3 linked regions of the Homo sapiens genome follow. The protein of the gene in region 1 interacts with the protein of each later gene in a pairwise test. Each region holds a gene or a part of one and is shown on either strand. Other genes may lie near its edges.

Region 1 (7,336 bases):
CCAAGACATTAGCAGAGGAGGCTGATGGATAAAGTTAATACAGAGGTCCAGGATTATAGAGAGCTGTTGTATAACAGCATCATATACAGTGATATTTTGTGAATCCATGCAACAAAGGAACAATATATGCAAGCCAGTAGAAAGCAGTCACAGGAAAAGCAGCGGAAAAGATGTGTTAGACATGAGCAGTTGGACAGTGCTCCTAATTTTTATTTGCCCATATAAGCCCATACAATCTTATAATTGCTGTCCTTTGGCAGTTAGCAGGTTTGGAATTCTGTCCTAAAACTCACCCACTCCCACTTAAAATCCCTCACTCTCCACCATGCTTGAGACAGCCAATGAAGAGGCATGATGGCCACTACTTGCACCGTGCCTTCCCCTTCCTATCCGGACTCTGGCAAGCAGCAGCCTATATTTTCCACTAGCTACTGGAGGCCTCCATCCACCTGCTGTCTGCAGCAAACAGCAAAAGGAACAGCAGCAAACCTGTAAATCCTGACAAGCCGAAAAGGTGTTCAGGACAGGTGGCAGGGGCTGTAACCAGTGAGTACAGACGGACTGACAACCAGACAGACAGACAGCAGCACTATCAGACACCATCCATTACTTCCAGTCTCAGAAGAGGGGAAGCCTGCAGCACCAGGGACGTCATTCTTCCACTAGGGACAGGCAGCAGATTAACGAGGGTTCTGCCTCCCTCAAGCCGGCAGGCTTAAAGTATTTGATTTTTGGATGAGAAGGAGCAGGGAATTCAGAAACCTGCTGCTCTTTATAGAACCAGGCCAGCTCTGGCCTTCGGAGTTAATGGCCCTTTTCTGAATCTACAATGAAAGAACAGGAATGACTGGATTTCTACTATTTTGCTGTGACCTAACAGCCACATCTCTCCCTCAGTATCCCCCTCCCCTATCTGAGTGTCAGTTGCCCTGGTTGGGGAACCATCGGTCTGTGAATGCAGCCTCCCTCCATTCCTCTCCTATGAGGCACTGCTGCACTGAGGGGAAGCAGAAGAAATCTTCTTCGGCAGCATCTTCTCTCGAGGAGGCACTTCTAGGGGGTGGGGGAGAGGCCATGCAGAATGTGCTCTGTGTCTGGGTTTCACCCCTGCTCCCTCCCCACCCCTCTTTTGCTATCAGGTAACTCCAGATGCAACAGGTTCCTTTTGGCTCTTCATGCCAATCCCCTGGCCCCAGATACACCTTCCAGCCTAAGCAGGGGACACCAAGGAGTCAGTCACAGTCAGGGCCCCTACATTCCCCTGCTTCAGAGTGAAAACTTTCCTGAATACATGAAGACTTCCCAAGAAAAGGCAGGGTTGAAGCCTCCTTCAGCTCTACTCTATGGGTGATGCTAAGCAAGGAAAGCCCCGTCTCTCTGCCAGTCCCTTGTAAGCAGTTTTGTCTGAGGCAAGCAGCAGCACAGTGTCACACACTCCTGCACCACCAGCAAGTAGTCCCATCTTCTCCCCATCACCAGGAAAATGGGGCATCAGACAGAAATCCCTTGAAGGGTTGATGCGCTCTAAAGAAGTGAGGAGGAGTGCAAATTCCCAATCCCTTATTGGACTGTTTCCTCCAGGAACTGAACAGGCCCCAGAGGTCTCTTGGAAACCACTAAAGAGGAACCTCTATGTTATTCAGGCCAGAGTCCCTGTCAGCTTCTCCCATGATTAAAAACTTTGTATTGCCAGTGGCATTACATATGGAGAAGAGAATCTGTCTTCACACAGGTATGCTGTGTAGAAGACTCTGAATAAAAGGTTAAAGAGAAGCTGGGGAGGCAGGTTACCAAAGATGGCAATTGCCCAAAAAAAGACCCAACCTTGATCTGTGAGATGAATGATTACTAAAATGAACACTAAAAATAAGCATTTTTATTATATAAATATAGGCAGCCTTCACTGGGGTAACCCCGACCAGCTAAACAACTCCAAGAAGAGAAGAGGAGCTGTCCTCAGCACCTCTTCATCCTGCCTCCCCTTGTTTCTACTCATCCCCTGCCCCCTAACCTGCTCCCAGCCCAGGGACCTTCCACTTGGGTGGGATCAGCACCTCTCAGCTTCTGCACTTCCCACCACGAGCGTGGCCCCCGTCCACCCATCCCTCCTCTGCACCCCAGTCTCAAGTCATCCTCCCCCGGCCTTTGGGTTCCTGGATCTGTGGCATATCCCCTCCCTCCTCCGGTCCCCTGACCTCTTCCCTGCTCAAGCCCCGCGCCCCTGGCCCAAGGCGGGCGCCTCCGTCCGCACCCAGCACCCTGGCAGCCCCTTCCCCACACTCAGCCGCGAGGACTAGGGGAGTGAGTGGTGAATGGACGGATGGAGGCACGGAGGCATGGATGGCGCGGCTGGGGCTGGCTTACTTGAGCATGGCTTCTTCTTTTTCCTCCTCTTCCTTCTGCCGGTCCATCACTGCCATGATAATGTTCCTCTCCTCTTCGGTCAGGTGGCTCAGGTCGGGCAGCTCTTGCATGGGGGGAGGCACCGTGGGTGGGCGAGGACCGCGGGGCCCCACGGCCGAGGACATTTTCGTGGCCTGCCCGCCCCCTCTGCTCGCTCTCTGGCTCTCACCTTTCGGATGCACGCCCAGCAGCTGCGCCCCTGCTTCCCCCTCACAGCGGAGCCCTAGCGGCGGCGGCAGGAGGAGGAGCAGCGGCGGCGGCGGCAGCAGCAGCAGCAGCAGAGCCGGGGAGAGCGAGAACCCAGTCTTTCATGGTTGTTTGCATCCACCCAGCCCCGGATGCTGCCTTTGTTTTGGTCGCCCTAGCGAAGCTCGGGGCCGCCCGGCCGCCTCCCGCAGCCCAGCCTCGGCCGGCGGGGGCGGGCAGGCGGAGGCGCGGCGGGAGAGGCGAGGGGGCGAGGGCTCGCGCCAGGCTCCGCCGATCCGGGCGTCTCCGGCGGGGCGCGGGGCGGGGGCGGGGCTGGGGCTGGGGCTGGGGCTGGGACTGGGGCGGCCGCTGCCGCCGTGGAGGCTGCTCCCAGGCTCTGCTGCCTCCAATTTGGGGCTGCGGGAGGGAGAGGGAGAGTTTGGGTGTCAGTTAGGCGGAGTCTCAGAGGCTTCCATCCAGGGTGATGCCGCTGCTCTCGCAGACATAGCTGCCAGCCACTCAGTCCCGGCGCCGCTCCGCCCACGGGCACCCACCCGCCCACTCCCCGGGTCCGAGCCACGCGTGCCCCGGCCGCTACCCCTACAGTCGCCAACGTGCACAGCACCTCGCTCTATCCCCAGGTACCCCTCACCCATGAGTCATCCTCCCTCTTCTGGTCCCTCGCCTATGTCATCCTCCCCAGCCCTATTTTGCATGGGTCGCATTAATCATCATCATCCTCGCTACCATCTTCATCATAGAGCATTAATATTATTTGAGCAACCACAATGTTCTGAACAGCAGAATGGAACACCCTGTGGATACATTTTCTTTTTCCTCCCTGCCACCGTGTCTTTCTTATTTACTAGTTAAGTGTTCACAGCCACAACAATGTGATTTTTTGGATGCTTTTGATACACACACACACACACACACACACACACACACACACACACACATCCTCCAACAGCCTGGATTTTCTGGGTATATTGTACTCATCAATGCAGTGTCTTTCTTGACCCGTCCTCGCTAGGACTGTTCTGCAGTGTATCAAGATGCCCCACAACACGGTAAATCTTTAATTTGTGTTTTTTGGCTCTAGGTAGCCCCATCACATCACATAACTGCTCTCTGGTGCTTACACATGAGTTATCTACTCTAATTCCTCTAATGATGTTCGCTATCATCATACTCACTCACATGTAGTTCAGAGTATCTCTGTAGGTACTTCCCAAGAAACACTGATCCCAGATAAGAAAAACACTCAACCATATCCTATTGTATTTAAGAAGCTTCTGCTAATGCCTAGCCCAATGATAGGCATTAAGGATGAGCTTCTCTTGCTGATAAAGGCAGAAATAAATAGGCAATCTTTTCAAAATAGGTAATGTTATCAGCTTTGAAACCTGGAGACTGAATTTTCTTGATATAATTATAAAAGAATCAATATAGAAAAGGGTTTAAATTGAACAACAATTTCCTAGTCAAGACTCCTTAGCAATGATGATGAGAGAATTGATATGTTTCTCTCCTAGGCTATTTTTTTAACTTAATTTAACTTAAAGTTCTGGAGTACATGTGCTGGATGTGGAGGGTTGTTACATAGGTAAACATGTGTCATGGTGGTTTGCTGCACCTATCAACCCATCACCTAGGTATTAAGCCCCATATACATTAGCTATTTGTCCTGATTCTCTCCCTGTGCCCCACCACAGGCCCCAGTGTGTGGTGTTCCTCTCCCTGTGTCCGGGTGTTCTCATTGTTGAACTCCCATTTATAAGTGGGAACATGGTGTTTGATTTTCTGTTCCTGTGTTAGTTTGCTGAGAATAATGGCTTCCAGCTCAAACCACGTCCCTGCAAAGGACATGATCTCATTCTTTTTTATGGCTGAATAGTGTTCCATGGTGTGTATATGTACTACATTTTCTTTATCCAGTCTATCATTGACAGGCATTTGGGTTGATTCCATGTCTTTGCTATTGTGAATAGTGCTGCAATGAACATCCATGTGCATGTATCTTTATAATGATTTATATTCCTTTGGGCATATACCCAGTGATGGGATTGCTGGGTTAAATGGTATTTCTGGTTCTAGGTCTTTGAGGACTCGCCACACTGTCTTCCACAATGACTGAACTAATTTACATTCCCACCAACAGTGTAAAAGTGTTCCTATTTCTCCACAGCCTCACCAGCATTTGTTGTATCTTGACTTTTAATGATAGCCATTCTGACTGGCATGAGATGGTATCTCATTGTGATTTTGATTTGCATTTCTTTAAGGATGTGATGTTGAACTTTTTTTCATATGTTTGTTGCCTGCATAAATGTCTTCTTTTGAGAAGTGTCTATTCATGTCCTTTGCCCACTTTTTAGTGGGGTTGTTTGTTATTTTTCTTGTAAATTTATTTAAGTTCCTTGTAGATTCTGGATATTAGACCTTTGTCAGGAGGATGGATTGCAAAAATTTTCTCTCATTCTGTAGGTTGTCTGTTCACCTTGATGATAGTTTATTTTGCTGTTTAGAATAGCTCCAGAAGGAAGTCAGCACTCATTTTTTTTCCTCCAAGCCTAACTTTGTTAATGGAGAAGAAAATGACTAGGATGATGATATTTATTAATCTTAAAATCTTCAAGTTTAAGGAACTTAAGACTTTAGTTGATTTCCCATAAAATGCAGGAGTTGCTTCTACATGGACACATCTATTTGAATACTTTCAGTAGTGGAAGGTTCACTTCCTCTGAATTCCATTGCTACATCTAACTCCCTCTTCTTACTGGAAACCTTTCAAATATTTGACACAGTTATCATGTCCTCTTCAATCTTCTCCAGAGTAAATCTTCACAGTTTATCCAACCAGTATAGCCTCATTTTAAAGACTGATCATTTGGTCATCTGCCTTTGAAGACACTTAAATTTTTTTCACTAGCCTTCCAGAATATGTATCAAGAATATGTGTAACCAAGAACAGTGCCTGACATTTAGTGAATGCCCAATAACGCAGTATAGTCATTATTTTTATTTGTGTAACTTAATATTGCTCTAACTTTTTGATGGCCATATCACTTATAAGAATGTCACTGAAATAAACATGTAGTCCACTAAAAGTTTCAGTTATTTTTCATAAGCTCTGCTGTACAGCCAGATTTCCCCTTTCCTATAATTAAGCAATCATTGACATTTTATGATTTTATGATCTTGGCCAAATCACTTAACCTCTCTGAACTCTGTTTCTTCATCTGCAAAATGGGGATAAAGATATTTATCTCACAATAGAAGAAAAGTATTAAATAAGAAGACGTGTGAAGCATCTAACTATGGGCTTAACACTTTGTAGTTCTCTTTTTCTTATTTCTTTCTCTTTCCAAGAGATGTATTAGGTCATCCCTCAATTATTAATATACAGAAGGAAGTAGAAATGTAGATGACATATTTGTTCTACCAGATGCTTTTCTCTCTGTCAGTCAGTCAGGAAATGCAGCGATACAATGGACAAATTCCCTGTTCTCAAGAGGTTTACAATCTAGTTGGTTCTAATAAAATTCTTCTAAAATACAAGTAAAGGAATTATAAAGCTTCAGTAGACATTAGAACTAGCTGAGGAAAGCTCTTGAAGTCAAGGACCTAATGAACAAGTAACAGCAGTGCTTTAATTTGCTCCAATTGTCATTACAAAATACCACAGACCGGGTAGCTTAAATAACAGAAATTATTATTCTCTCCCAGTTCTGGAGGCTAGAAATCCAAGATCTAGGTGTCAACAGGTTTGATTTCTCCCAAGGCCTCTCTCTTACTTAGGCTTGTTTTGGCCACCTTCTTGCTGTGTCCTCACATGGCCTTTCATCTGTGCACATGCATCCCTGGTGTCTCTCCCTCTACTTATAAGGGCACTAGTTTTATTGGATTAGGGACCCTCCTTTATTTAACCTTAATTATCTCTTTAATGTGGACCCTATCTCCAAATGCAGTCACATGCTAAGGTACTGGAGGATAGGACTCAGACATATGAATTTGAGAGGGATACAATTCAGTCCATAATATGTGGTTTCCATTCATTAAAATTACTGTAAGAAATGATGATTGATGTGTATTATCTGGATAACTTAATGAAGAGAAATCTATGTCTCAGTCATCTTTATAGTTATTTCCCTGGGCTCCATGTGTCTTTGTGAAATAAATGAGTGCATAAATGAATGAGTAAATGAGTAAATTAGTAGAGCCTTGATTCAGCCCATCAGTGTCTCCTCTTCTATCAGGAATCTCATCCATTACAGAGGGGTTCAGAACCAATTTCTAAAACCCAAGAGAAGTGTCTTCACAGATTTACCTCCAGAAAAAGAGAACTTATCTGCACTTAGATAAGTGAGCAAATACCCAAAGTAGGTGTGCCAAAGTGTGTAGCACAGATTAGTTTCTGAAAATGCTCAATCAGTGTGGAAAAATGTTCATAATACCTCTCTCTTACACCTTAATAAATAAAAACAATGCTAACAAGCAAGTATTCACTGCAGGAAAGAAATCTGTCTTACCTGGTTTGGTTTGGCATTTCCCAAATGGATTAGACCATAGAATTATGTTCTTCCCTGATGGAGGAAACACGCTTTAGACAAGCTTTGGGAAAAACCTTGAGTTACAGGCCTAGTATGCAAAGATATTAATCAAAGAAACAGGAAACTTTGGATGTGATTATCCTTGTTCAACCAATGATATCTGTAGAAACACATCTTAAATCTCTAGTCATAAA
Region 2 (7,110 bases), on another chromosome or scaffold:
TCGCTTGAACCCGGGAGGCAGAGGTTGCAGTGAGCCGAGATCGCGCCACTGCACTACAGCCTGGGTGACAGAGCAAGACTCAATCTCATAAAAAAAAAAAGAAACTTCAAGTAAGAGAAAAATTGAACTGCAACAGCAACAATAAGTCTGGATAAGGTACCTCTCACTACTGCCCTTTCCCAGAAATTAACCTACATTCTATGTAAGCACCTTCAAACACTCCCTGGAAAGGGGAACAGGAGCTGACCACGTCCAGCCAAGTAAAGAAAGCAAATCCTTAGGAGGATTCATCATAGCCAGTGCGTAACAAAGCCAGCTTACTCGGCGTGCAATTCCAGACTGCTGGAACCAAAGGGGCTGCAGAATGTCGGGCTGTTTGCAGGGCTGGCTCATCAATTTTACTCGCTGTGTGTTAAACAGTCTTGTCAGTAGAGGGAGCAGAGGGAGGTTTCAGAGCTTTTCCCCCATAAGCCAGTATGGAAACCAGCTGTGTTACCCAGTTTTCACTTACTAGAGTCACTTGGCATTCACTCCCAAAATAAGGCTTTGAATAAGTCAAGCCTTCTTAGGTAGACAAGAACACAAGAGCCAATCTATAATCTGTCATCACATTTAAATCCATGCCAATTCCTTGAAAATTACAATCCTGGGCCAGTTACCAATAGTAGGGTCCTATAATCAGGAACAACTATCAAAAGACAATATGACACTTCTTTCTCAATAGAGTCAAAGAGGAGGCATAATTTTCTTGAATAGAAACAAAACAAAACTAAACTAAACTAAATATAATGACATTAGATGGAAGAAGATACGAATTTTAAACTAAACTACACATTCTAGAAAGGTGTAAGTTGCTAAAACTGGAAGGTTTTTGCAAATGATGCTGCTGACTAAATATATTAAAAATGAAAACTGGTCAGAAATAAGATTTGGTATGCAGAGAGCAAGAAATAGCCTAATGGCATAGAAAATTTATTTAAATCACATTACTTCTTCAGGAGTATAAAAGTAATAAAACTGATCAGTACACACACACAGGGCTTGGCCACTTCCAGCCAATTCCTTCACAGCATTTGTTAAAGGCACGTCCCTGGAGTCAGCGATGGCAGACAGTTGATGGGAAGAAACACTTACCTTTTGGCAAATCCCCAGTACTGGAGGCTGAAACCGTTCTGCTTCTGTCATGGGATGGACTGCTCTCCTCTTGCTCAGTAAGTGGTGATCCCTCAGAAAGCACAGAGCCGCAGGCCACAGGTTCTAAGGATCCAGAGAACAACGAGGTGGAAAACTCTGGGAACTGTGACTCGGGAATTTTATGTCGTCCATTTGGCAATTCACCATTGAATTGTTCATAGGAGCTGCTATATGTGTAATCACTTTCTGCATTTGGCTCATCAAGATTATATTCCTCAGGATTTGGGCAGTCTTCTTCATCATCATCTTCATCGTCCAGTTGCTGCTCCAGTGAGAATGGGCCATTCTCAATATGGCCATTGGTTTTAGGTGATTCTATCCACGTAGGGTCTATGTTCGCAAGTTCCTGATCTACATCATCTTCATCTTTTTCAATGTTTTCTTTCTCAGCATCTTCTTTCTCTTCCTGGTCCTCAGCTTCACCTTAAGAATTTGATGGGTCAAGAATTAGAACTTGTTACTCTCCTTAATACAGCCTCATTAAGTACTTATCTCCATCAATAAAATACATTTTGAATATGCTTATGTACCACCTGGTAAACACCTCTTGGCTTTTGGGGTAAAACCTTCAGGTTTTCTAAATCTCATTTTTCATTCATTTAGTAATTGGCCTGCTCTTATAAGAAAAAGTTAGCTTTAAGGGAAAATAACTCTTTCTAAATAAAGTTGCACTTCCATTTCTACCCTCTATAATCTTCAGAAACAGACTTGTGGTGCATTACAGTTAGGTAAAAAGTTAATGACAAAATAAAGCACCATCATTAGCATGATAGAAACATGGAATTTCTCAATTATTTTACATTTTTAAAAACTATTTTGAAATGTTAACATATTTCTGGCATACAGTTCACAAATGAAGTACGAGGCTATTTCCCATATTTCCCAATAGGGAGTTGGAGAGAATCATCCTTGTCATCTGCAGCAGCAGCACAAATCAGCCCCCATGTTGACCTGGCAGAACCCTACTAATGGAGCTCTGAGAACCCCATGCAGCCCAGGTTCCAGGCCCCACTGACCATTGTCCTTTGCAGTCTCTGCCTCAGCCGCCTCCTCTAATCCTGTTGTTTTTAGTTTCACCTCTGGGCAGTATTCGCCATCCTGGTCATTGGAAGGTGCAGCTGAGGTGATGTTTTCTTCTATTATTTTCCTTTCAGCTTCTCGCTCCAATTCTTCTATCTCCTGCAGGCGCTTCTCCAATAACTCAGCCTGCCTCTTCTGTTTCTTTTTCAGTTTTTTCTTTTTGTTTTTAGATATTTTTCCTATCTATGTTAAGGAAAGACCACAGGTCAGTATTCTTCTTTTTAAAGCACCACGATAGTATAACGACTAGCAGCATGGCAAATAGCAATAAACTCTGCTTTCTCATGCCATATTCTATTAAAATCCCAAACCCAGACAGATCCACTTTGTGGTAAGGCTTACGATAAAATCAAAGGGAAAGCAGTGCTGACTGATATCACGTACTAGGTCTACTACCAGGTCCTGCCCTCAGAGGGATATAGCTTAAATCCAGTAAGTCTTCACCATTCAAACTCTAAGAGAACTGAAGTTCGAAATTCTCTTGGCCTTAAAGGAGAAGCTCCTCTTGCAAGTTTTATTTGCTGCTGTCTATATACAAAGTAACAACATCCCAGCTCCTCAATGCCAAAAATGAAACAGGTGCCCGAGCAGGTGTATGTCACTGTGTGTTTGGGTCTCACATATGAAGCTCTTAGCAGCCAAGACAACATGAACTGTAAGAGATAAGCCTATGCTGCAAAGGGAAAAAAGAAAAAGCTACAGCTTTTGTCTGCCTCCCGTCATGGTTACCTGACTTGCAAAGCACTGGCAATGACAGCCTCCAACCTTTCAATCAATCAGTAAATTCAAGCAGCTCAAGCCAGGGAAGAACTATGGGAAACAACTTGAGCTTCTCAGCAGGCCAGGAAGCTTAATTATTAAAGCTCCCTCTTGTTCCAGAACTTACATTCCAAATCAAGAGCTGTCTCAGTAAAAATAGTGTTTTGTTGTTGTTGTTGTTGTTTTCTTTGAGACAGAGTCTCTGTTGCCCAGGCTGGAGTGCAGTGGCGTGATCTCAGCTGACTGCAACCTCCACTTCTTGAGTTCAAGTGATTCTCATGCCTCAGCCTCCCATGTAGCTAGGACTACAGGTGCACACCATCACACCCGGCTAATTTTTTTTTTTTTTTTTGAGATGGAGTCTCACTCTGTCGCCCAGGCTGGAGTGCAGTGGCGTGATCTCAGCTCACTGCAACCGTTACCTCCTGGGCTCAAGTGATTCTACTGCCTTAGCCTCCTGAGTAGCCGGGATTACAGACGTCCACCAGCACACTCAGCTAGTTTTTGCATTTTTGGTAGAGACAGGATTTCACCATGTTGGCCAGGCTGGTCTTGAATTCCTGACTTCAAGTGATCTAGTGGCCTCAGCCTCCCAAAGTGCAGGGATTACAGGCGTGAGTCACCACACCCAGTATCTAATAAGGACATAGTGTTTTGACAGGACCACAAAATAGATCAGTCTCTTTCTTATTTAACATCCGCATGGAAAAAATTAGAACAACAGCTTCAGAAAAACAGGTAACTTAGCAGCCAATCAGAAATAATGTAAAGTGGTTTTGAAATAAAAATACTTCAACTCCATCACCTCACATTTCACTAAACTTGGCCACCATAGTCCAGAAAATGCATAAAGAAGACAATTTTTGAAAGGCTCTAACTATCCCAACTCTGCACAGATCATTAAAACTTAACAAGACAGGCTGGGCGTGGTGGTTCAAACCTGTAATCCCAGAAATTTGGGAGGCCGAGGCAGGCAGATAACTTGAGGTTAAGAGTTCGAGACCAGTCTGGCCAACATGGTGAAACCCCTCTCTACTAAAAATACAAAAATTAGTTGGGTGCGGTGGCAGGTGCCTGTAATCCCAGCTACTCGGGAGGCTGAGGCACAAGAATCGTTTGAACCAGGGAGGGGGAGGTTGCAGTGAGCCGAGATCGCACCACTTGCACTCCAGCCTGAGCAACAGAGTGAAACTCAGTTTTCAAAAAAAAAAAAAAAAAAAATTAACAAGACATTAAGTCTTACCTATTTGAGGATACACAGCTTTTATAAATGTGTCTACCCTTTAAATACACAACTTTTTTATAATTTGAACAACTCAATAATAAACGGTCTCTTTTAACATGGTGCATATAAAGTAATATGCGTAAGTACTTACAGGTTTCTGCTGTGGAGCCGTACTCACTAAAATAAAATCAAACAAAATCTGTATTTAGCAGAAAACAGACACATGCCTTCATGTAGGTCATTCGAATTGCAAAGTGAAATAATTATTGTCTTTTAATGGCTATCCAACTTCAAAAACTATTAATCAGAGCTTCTTAATCACAAGGATCTAGAGTAAGTTTATGCCACTGAAACAAATGAGTGACTCCTGAAGTCACAGCAGAAGTTACTCATACTGAGCCATTTCTCTTATTTATCTAAAATGAAATACTAATACATCTCAAACACAGTCAAGCTCAAGCACCAACAGATCACTTAAGAAAATGGAAAAGAATACATATCACAGTCATTAAACCAAATTTGTTTAAAATATAATGAAATGAACAATGTAGATGTACATCGATATTTGGAATCTATTTTGCAAGCTTTCTATAATTTAAATCAAATACTGCAGTTGGTATGCAGCAAATAGTCTAGGAATCACATGATTAAACCCCTACACCAGGGTCAAAAGCTTAACAGGCTGGGTCCATGATCTAAACAACACCCTGATGGCAGTAAAGGAGATGTGAAGAGAGCCCCAGGCAGTCCCAGGAGCCTCAGCCCTTTAGTATCCATGCTTGCCTGACAACACACAAAGGCACAGATCATGGTGTCGAAGAGTGAGAAGCACAGTCCACACTTCACTGCACCACCTCCCCGACCCCGCCCCAGAAATAAAGATATCCCAATACTCAGGTCACTTGATCTTCTTCCCCCACCATCAGGCCTTTTCTAACTAACTCCAAATCTGTTGATACAACTCAGGTTGACATAGCTATGCTAAATGGACAACAAGAATTTATGTACACAAAATTGAAGCCAGAAAAATATTCTGATGACTAAAGGTCAGCTACAGGAAAGCTGTTACTATGTTCTCCTCTGCAGAGAAGCTGGCAACAGAAAAAACTGTTCAAATATAGATGAAGCAGCAACTACAAATTTAAATGGCCTTTTAAAGGGGGACAAAAGTAAATACTTCCAATATTAAAATATAATGTAGCTGGGGCATTTTCCATTTCAAGGGTGCAGTTATTTCCAGCAATTAAACTTTTCCAAAATCTTCCTTATGTGTAACGTTTGATTCAGATACCTTCAACAACTGCAACTTTGCAAGCTCCCAATGCCCCCACACTGAAATGAAGCTGGCTCAGCTCCCTCACCTGCAGACCCTGAAGGAGGAGGAGCACCTGCTTTCTGCCACTCAGTGGCCTCAGCTGCCATTCTTCTCACATATGCATCATCCACACACATCAAGATATTTTCCGGCTTTATGTCAGTATGAATGATCTTGCACTTACTGTGTAAGTAATCTAACCCTTGAAGGACCTGGATATAGTAAAATCAAGAGAGAAGATAAGCTATTAATATCTCATTATATAACTTTTATTTATTTGAAAAACATGTAATACAATGCCAGGGTACAAAGTTTGATAAACACAAAAGGATATTTAGTAAAAATCTCCCTCCCATGCCTACCCACATTGGAATCCAGCTCTCCTTTCCATAAGCAACCAGTGTGTATAATTTCAGAGATTATTTATGCTCGTGGAAGCAAATGCATCTACATACAGTTGAACCTTGAACAACACAGGTTTGAACTGCATGGGTTCCCTTATACACAGATTGTCTTCCACCTCTGCCACTCCTGAGACAGCAAGACCAACCCCTCAGCCTACTCAACGCGAAGATAATGAGGATGAAGACCTTTATGATCATCTACTTCATATGATCTATCCACTTAATGAATAGTAAGTATATTTTCTCTTCTTTATGATTGTCTTAACATTCTTTTCTCTAGCTTACTTTGTTGTAAAAATATGCTATATAACACACATACAAAATACATGTTAATTGGTCATGTGATCATTAAGGATTCTGATCAACAGTAGGCTAGTAATTCATGTATCATACAATTGACCCCTTTAGGTATACAATTCAATGGATTTTAGATGTGCGACTATCATTACTATTTATTTTTTAAATTTTTTATGTATTTATTTTTTGAGACAGAGTCTCGCTCTGTCACCCAGGCTGGAGTGCAGTGGCACAATCTTGGCTCACTGCAACCTCCGCCTCCCAGGTTCAAGCAATTCTCCTGCCTCAGCCTCCCAAGCAGCTGGGATTACAGGCGTATGCCACCACGCCTGGCTAATTTTTTTTGTATTTTTAGTAGAGACGGGGTTTTACCATATTGGCCAGTGGTCTCGAACTCCTGACCTTGTGATCCACCTGTCTCGACCTCCCAAAGTACTGGGATTACAGGCGTGAGCCACCACACACGGCAACTACCACCACTATTTAAATGACAACATTTTCATTGCTCCAAAAAGAAACAACATATTCATCAGCATTCACTTCCCATCTCTCTCCTACCCCTTCTAACCCTTAGCAACCACTAATCTACTTGCTGATTCTGGACATTTCCTATAAATGGAATCATATAAAGTATTTTTTTGTAACTGGCATAATGTTTTCAAGTTTGACTCTTGTGCAGCATGTATTAGTACTTCGCTTATTCTTATTGGCAAACAGTATTCCACTGTATGGAGATACAACATTGTGTTTATCCCTTCACCTCATGAACATTTGGGTTATTTTCACTTTAGGGGCTATAAAAATAATACTGCTATTCACACTCGTGTATACATTTT
Region 3 (7,110 bases), on another chromosome or scaffold:
AGAAAGTGAAGTCATAAAAATCTAAGTAAACAAACAAAAAAACCAAGACACAACTTGAATGATGTTATTCTCTTTTGATTTAAAAAAAAAAAAACCATGAGGCACAGCCGAGTGAATTTGTCCACAGTTAAATCTCAAGACTAGTTTCAAATTCCAGTCTATAACTCTAAATTCTAATTTCTCCTTTTATATGTTGTTCCTTCTTTTTTGCTCCATCTTATGAGGTCCATTCTACCTCTTCAGAATCTTTATCTCGATCAGTCTTAGACTCTCATTTTTGTCTTCCACTTTCAAGCCCAGACTCTTTCCATCACACATCCCTTCAGGAAAGTAGTGTAAGATTGTGGCCAGGCGCTGTGGCTCATGCCTATAATCCTAGCACTTTGGGAGGCCGAGGCAGGTGGATCACTTGAGGTCAGGAGTTCAAGACCAGCCTGGCCATGGTGAAACCCCGTTTCTACTAAAAATACAAAAATTAGCCAGGCGTGGTGGCGGGTGCCTGTAATCCCAGCTACTCGGGAGGCTGAGGCAGGACAATCACTTGAACCCAGGAGGCAGAGGTTGCAGTGAGCCAAGATCATGCCACTGCACTCCAGCCTGGGCAACAGAGCAAGACTCCATCACAAAAAAAGAAAAAAGACTAGAGTTATGTAAAATTCTATGAACAAAACCTGTGAATTCAACTTCTCTGATTTTATATTAAATTCTACCAATACAGATTTTTGTGTCAAATGTCCATACACAAACCCCACAATATTTAGGTCCAACAAAAAGCAAATGCCTGTCAACAAGAAATACAGAAAAAACACCTGCTTTGTTTGAGCTTCAACACTGAACTTCAAGGTCCCACATAACCCACAGAAACAATGTCTTATCTAGTGCACACAGAAGTACACAAGACCAACCATAGTTGAGCAGCTTGAGTGGCTAGAGTGTAGTGCTAGCGAACTCTCGGCTGAAGACAAAATTGGATGCCCCTCCCACCTCCAAAAAAAGGCCTTTTCTTTCAAAGCCAACTTCTGCCCTTCCAATTGTTCTGTACAAGCAGGTGCAGACGGGTGAGTACAAATTCCTTATTACTTTTGCAGACCAACTCCAAGCACAACCTTTAACTTCTTGTGTGAGACAGGACATTAAAGCTTCCCAGGTAAGAGATTTATTTTCTCCTTCATGTTTAATTTGAAATTTGAAAATGGATATGAGACAAATGAATTTTCTGCTTTAGTCCTCCCAGTGGTGATCAGAGGGTACTGCATTCCCTGACTCCTTTTTCTTTTTTAACCAAAGCCACAAGTCACGGAATATTCCCTGACTCTTACTAGGAATTTGTTCCAGCCCAGGAAAAAATTCCAGGCATAAAATTTGGCTATATCTTAGAATAATAAAATGCAGGCCGAGCGCAGTGGCTCAAGCCTGTAATCCCAGCACTTTGGGAGGCCAAGGCAGGCGGATAACCCAAGGTGAGGAGTTTGAGACCAGCCTGGCTAACATGGTGAAACCCCATCCCTACTAAAAATACAAAAAATTAGCTGGGCATGGTGGTGTGTGCCTGTAACCCCAGCTACTTAGGCTGGCAGGCGGAGGTTGCAGTGAGCCAAGGTCACGAGATTGCACTCCAGCCTGGCAACAAGAGTGAAACTCTGTCTCAAAAAAAAAAAAAAAGTAATAAAATGCAGAACAATCCTCTTTGCAATCAAATAGTTAATATTAATTTTTATTAGACTGTATAAGCCTCTATGTAATTACAATGTAAATCATGCACCATGTAAGTCTAAATAGTTATACAATGTATATATCATGAGCTACATAACTTAAATGACCAAAATTCTATTTACTGCAAATTTCAACCTTTACCTCATTTACATACATAAGATAAGGATGCTCAAATTGAAGTCTATAAGATCTTTCCCTGAAAACTGACTAAATATTTTCATGAATTCTTCAGAGATCAACTTTTTTTTTTCTTTCTTAAGATACATAGTTTCACCATGTTGTCCAGGTCGACTGGAACTCCTGGCCTCAAGTGATCCTCTGGCCTTAGCCTCCTGAGTAGCTGAAACTATAGGCCAACTTTTTTCTGATAAGGCCCAAACAGCTTGATTCAACAGGTTGTGCTTAGAAGTTGACAAGCTGATTAAGCCGGGGCACAGTGGCTCACGCCTGTAATTCCAGCACTTTGGGAGGCCGAGGAGGGAAGTGGGAGGATCATGAGGTCAGGAGTTCCAGATCAGCCTGCCAACATGGTGAAACCCAGTCTCTACCGAAAATACAAAAAAATCAGCTGGGCATGGTAACAGGCACCTGTAATCCCAGCTACTCGGGAGGCTGAGGCAGAATTGCTTGAAGCCAGGAGGCGGAGGTTGCAGTGAGCCAAGATCATGCCACTGCACTCCAGCCCGGGCAACAAGAGTGAAACTCTGTCTCAAAAAATAAAATAAAATTTAAAAATTAGCTGGGTGTGGTGGCGGCTGCCTGTAATCCTAGCTACCTGGGAGGCTGAGGCAGGAGAATCGCTTGAACCCGGGAGGCGGAGGTTGCAGCGAGCGAGATCGTGCCACTGCACTCCAGCCCAGGTAACAGTGTGAGACTCCGCCTCAGGAAATTTAAAAAAAAAAAAAGCTAATTAAATAAAACCATATTACATATTTTAAATGAGATACTCTACAAAGTATTGCTGGCTGGTATACAGTTAAGTGATCACCAAATGGCAACTATTGTTATTTTCCAGAACCACAATTTTTAATAAACAGTTTTTTTTAAACTCATGGAACCTGAAAACTCAATTAAATGGTCTGGAAATCTTCCTTTGATAGTCACAGTACAATCTAAAAGGAGTATAGTTTAGTTAGCAAGCCTTCACTGCACACTAAGGCAGTGATTTTTTTTTCTTAATAAATAAACATCAGAAATTCCTGCTATAGTGATTCTTAAGAGTGGTCCCCGGACCTGGAGCATCAACATCACCTGGCAACTTGTTAGAAATTCCAATTCTACGGGTAAAATCAAGGTCTAGGGGTAGGGCCCAGTGATCACGGTTCTAAAGCCCTTCAGGTGATTCTAATGTTTGCTTAAGTTTGAGAGTTACAGACTAGTTTCATAAAGCTCAGGCTGCTTTGTCCTGCAAGGAGCAGGAAATCCTAAAGAGCAGGAAAGCTATGTGTCCCAGGTATATGGCCTCTACAGCACCTAGCACAGTATCATACACACGGTAGGCATTCACACTTGCTGAATAGGTTAATTCAGTCTCACATAACCGATGACTGACTAGACAACAGCATCATCAGTTTCACAGAGGTCAGAAATTTGGGGGACTATTTGCATTAACTAATAATAAGTACATGATGCACACATATCAGTAACTGTTAAATAACTGGGAAAGCCCTGGGCCTCTGGTACTTTGGCCAATAACATTACCAGGCTTACGAAGTGTCATATCCTTTGAAATTCAGGTGAAAAATATGTTTCTCATTTTGCCAGTATAGAAAAAGGATGTATCCGTGGCTCCATATAACTATAGAACATAAACTGAAATGCAAACTGTTTGGTTGCCTTTAAAAAGCATATTTTGACCAGGTACAGTGGCTCACGCCTGTAATCCCAGCACTTTGGGAGGCCAAGGCGGGCGGATCACCTGAGGTCAGGAGTTTGAGAACAGCCTGGCCAACATGGCGAAACCCCATCTCTACTAAAAAAAAAAAAAAAAAAAAAAAAAAAATAGCCAGGCATGGTGGCGGGAGCCTGTAATCCCAGCTACTCGGGAGGCTGCGCACGACAATCGCTTGAACCCGGGCGGCAGAGGTTGGCAGTGAGCCGAGATTGCACCACTGCACTCCAACCTGGGCGACAGAGCAAGACTCCATCTCAATTAAAAAAAAAAAAAAAGCATATTTGACATATCAGCCAACTATAATGTATGAATTCAAGCTGGATTCTAATTTGAACAGTTTAAAAATTAGAAATGTGAGAAAATTTAAATACTGCATATTTGATATTAAGAAAATATGATAAAAGTATTGCTTTTTTCTTAAAACAGGCTTTATCTCTTCTAAAAGCTTTAGAGAGGAAATGATACTGCATTTGCTTCTTCATTTATAAATGAAATAAGATTGGCCACTGAGCTGCGCTGTTGAGTACATGGGGGGCTAAGTACATACCAGGGTTTCTCAACGCTGGCACTACTGACATTTTAGGCCGGGTAATTCTTTGCTGTGGAAGGCTGTCCTACGTACTGTAAAATGTTTAGTAGCATTCCTGGTCAGCCAAACCTTTCTCCAGCTGTGATAACCAAAGATGTCTTTAGACATTGTCAAATGTCCACTAGAGGGCAAAATCACCCTGTGGCTGAGAAGCATTGATAAATAACATTCTATTTTTTTAAATTTTCCTATAATAAAATATTTTAAAAAATAGTTTTGACTGAGTGTGGTGGCTCACACCTGTAATTCCAGTGCTTTGGGAGGCTGGGACAGGAGGCCTGCTTGAGCCCAGGAGTTAGAGACCACCTTGGGCAATACAGGGAGATCTCATCTCTACGAAAAAATTAAAAATTAGCCATGCATGTGGTGGGGCACGCCTGTAGTCCCAGCTACTCAGGAGGCTGAGTCGGAAGGATTGCTTGAGCCCAAGAGGTCAAGGTTACAGCAAGCTGTGATTGCTCCACTGCACTCCAGCCTGGGTGACAGAGCGAGATACTGTCTCAAAATCAAAATAAAATCTACAGCAAGCTTGTCCAACCCACAGCCCTAGGGCTGCATGCAGCCCACCACAGCTTTGAAAGTGACCCAACACAAATTCATAAACTTTGTTAAAACACTGTGAGATTTTTTTTGCAGTTTTTTTAAAGCTTATCAGCTATTGTTAGTGTTAGTGTATTTTATCTGTGGCCCAAGACAATTCTTCCAATGTGGCCCGGGGAAGCCAAAAGATTGGACACCCCTGATCTACAAGCTTAAAAAAAAGTTTTAGAAATACTCTATGTACAGGTACAACTACATCTCCTTGTGGAGCCTAAGCTAGAGATCTGGGGCCCAGTAGAGGCTTTGCTACTAAATAGTTAGTGGTCTTCTGTCATTACTAGCAGCCTTTGTCACCTCTCTGAGTCTCAGCAACCTCACTGGATCAGATTGAGTAGTTCTTTTGAGCTATAACACGATGCAGCAACAGTGAACTTTTTTTTTGAGATGGAGTCTCACTCTGTCGCCCAGGCTGGAGTGCAGTGGCGCCATCTTGGCTCACTGCAAGCTCCGCCTCCCGGGATCACGCCATTCTCCTGCCTCAGCCTCCCGAGTAGCTGGGACTACAGGCACCTGCCACCACGCCCGGCTAATTTTTTATATTTTTGGTAGACACAGGGTTTCACCGTGTTAGCCAGGATGGTCTCGATCTCCTGACCTCGTGATCTGCCCGCCTCGGCCTCCCAGAGTGCTGGGATTACAGGTGTGAGCCACCGCGCCCGGCCTTTTTTTTTTTTTTTTTTTTTTTGAGACGGAGTATCCCTCTGTCGCCCAGGCTGGAGGGCAATGGCTTGATCTCAGCTCACTGCACTCTCCGTCTCCAGGGTTCAAGCGATTCTCCAGCCTCAGCCTCCCAAGTAGCTGGGATTACAGGTGCCCGCCACCGCACCCGGCTAATTTTTGTATTTTTAGTAGAGACAGGGTTTTGCCATCTTGGTCAGGCTGGTCTCGAACTCCTGACCTCAGGTGATCCACCTGCCCCGGCCTCCCAAAGTGCTGGGATTACAGGCGTGAGCCACTGCACCTGGCCAACAGTAAACTTTTATATACCCATTCACTAAGGGTGGACATTAATATTTGGAAATCAAACAAACAAAAACAAATTAGTGTACAAGGATGAAGATAATGTTGCAAGTTGTCTGCTTTTTTTTTTTTTTTTTTTTGGAGACAGAGTCTTACTCTGTCACTCAGGCTGCAGTGCAGTGGCATGATATCGGCTCACTGCAACCTTCACCTCTTGTGTTCAAGTGATTCTCCCACGTCAGCCTCCTGAGTAGCTGGAATTACAGGCATGCACCACCGCACCTGGCTAATTTTTTTTTTTTTTTGAGATGGAGTCTGGCTCTGTCGCCCAGGCTGGAATGTGGTGGCCCAATCTCGGCTCACTGCAAGCTCTGCCTCCCAGGTTCATGCCATTCTCCTGCCTCAGCCTCCCGAGTAGCTAGGACTACAGGTGCCTGCCACCACGCCCGGCTAATTTTTCGTATTTTTAGTAGAGACAGGGTTTCACCATGTTAGCCAGGATGGTCTCGATCTCCTGACCTCGTGATCCGCCAGCCTCAGCCTCTCAAAGTGCTGGGATTACAGGTATGAGCCACCACACCCGGCCTGCCTTTTCTTAGTCTTGATCTAATAAGCGACATTCTTATCACAGTTATATACAATTACTTAAAATTTAAATAAGATTCCTGGGGTAAGCACAATAAAAAGTATTTTTACAGAATACTAAAAGAAAACTGTTCTAGTCACAATAGCCAAAAATGTCCATCACTGGTGAGTGGATTAAAAAAAATTGTGGCACATCCAAACAAGGAAATACTTACTCAGCAATAAAAAGGAATGAACTACTGATACTGATACACATTCAAATAAATCTCAAAAGCACTACTCTAAGTGAAAGAAGACACAAAAGATTATTTACACTGTGACTCCATTTACATAGCATCCTAGAAAAGGCAAAACTACAGGGACAGAAAGCAGATCAGTGGTTACCCAGGGGCTAAGAAAGGGAGAGGGCACTGACTATACAGGGCCATAAGGGACCTTTCTGGCAATGGAAGTGTTCTACATCTTGATTGTGATAGCGGTTACATAACTATACGCTTGTCAAAATTCACCAAACTGTATACTTAAAACAGATGAACATTACATCTCAACAAACCTAACTTTAAGAAAAAAGGTTCTCAACAGAATGAGAGCTCCCATTCATTCTTGTACATTCACCACTCAATTGGCAGGAAGTCTAATACTTAGCAGTGCAGTAATGTAGGTAATTAATATGGACTATACCTGAGTTATAACACTGACACAAGGGCTCCACACTGTGAAAGCTACACAGCTCCTTCCAGAACATGCCAATGCAAGAGTTAAAAATGTA

What was found.
Region 2: the proteins of RIMS1 (region 1) and SRPK2 interact in binary tests that used the Homo sapiens proteins (3 or more experiments, as listed by UniProt).
Region 3: the proteins of RIMS1 (region 1) and MARK3 interact in binary tests that used the Homo sapiens proteins (3 or more experiments, as listed by UniProt).

Annotation. Positions count from the first base shown.
Region 1 is NC_000006.12:71,882,216-71,889,551, reverse strand, and holds the start of RIMS1 (regulating synaptic membrane exocytosis protein 1), read right to left. Parts: upstream 3,003-7,336; 5' UTR 2,529-3,002; coding exon 2,365-2,528; intron 1-2,364. UniProt on the Homo sapiens protein: Rab effector involved in exocytosis. May act as scaffold protein that regulates neurotransmitter release at the active zone.
Region 2 is NC_000007.14:105,140,874-105,147,983, forward strand, and holds part of SRPK2 (SRSF protein kinase 2), read right to left. Parts: intron 5,786-7,110; coding exon 5,620-5,785; intron 4,436-5,619; coding exon 4,410-4,435; intron 2,458-4,409; coding exon 2,211-2,457; intron 1,618-2,210; coding exon 1,135-1,617; intron 1-1,134. UniProt on the Homo sapiens protein: Serine/arginine-rich protein-specific kinase which specifically phosphorylates its substrates at serine residues located in regions rich in arginine/serine dipeptides, known as RS domains and is involved in the phosphorylation of SR splicing factors and the regulation of splicing.
Region 3 is NC_000014.9:103,388,315-103,395,424, reverse strand, and holds part of MARK3 (MAP/microtubule affinity-regulating kinase 3), read right to left. Parts: intron 1-7,110. UniProt on the Homo sapiens protein: Serine/threonine-protein kinase. Involved in the specific phosphorylation of microtubule-associated proteins for MAP2 and MAP4. Phosphorylates the microtubule-associated protein MAPT/TAU. Phosphorylates CDC25C on 'Ser-216'.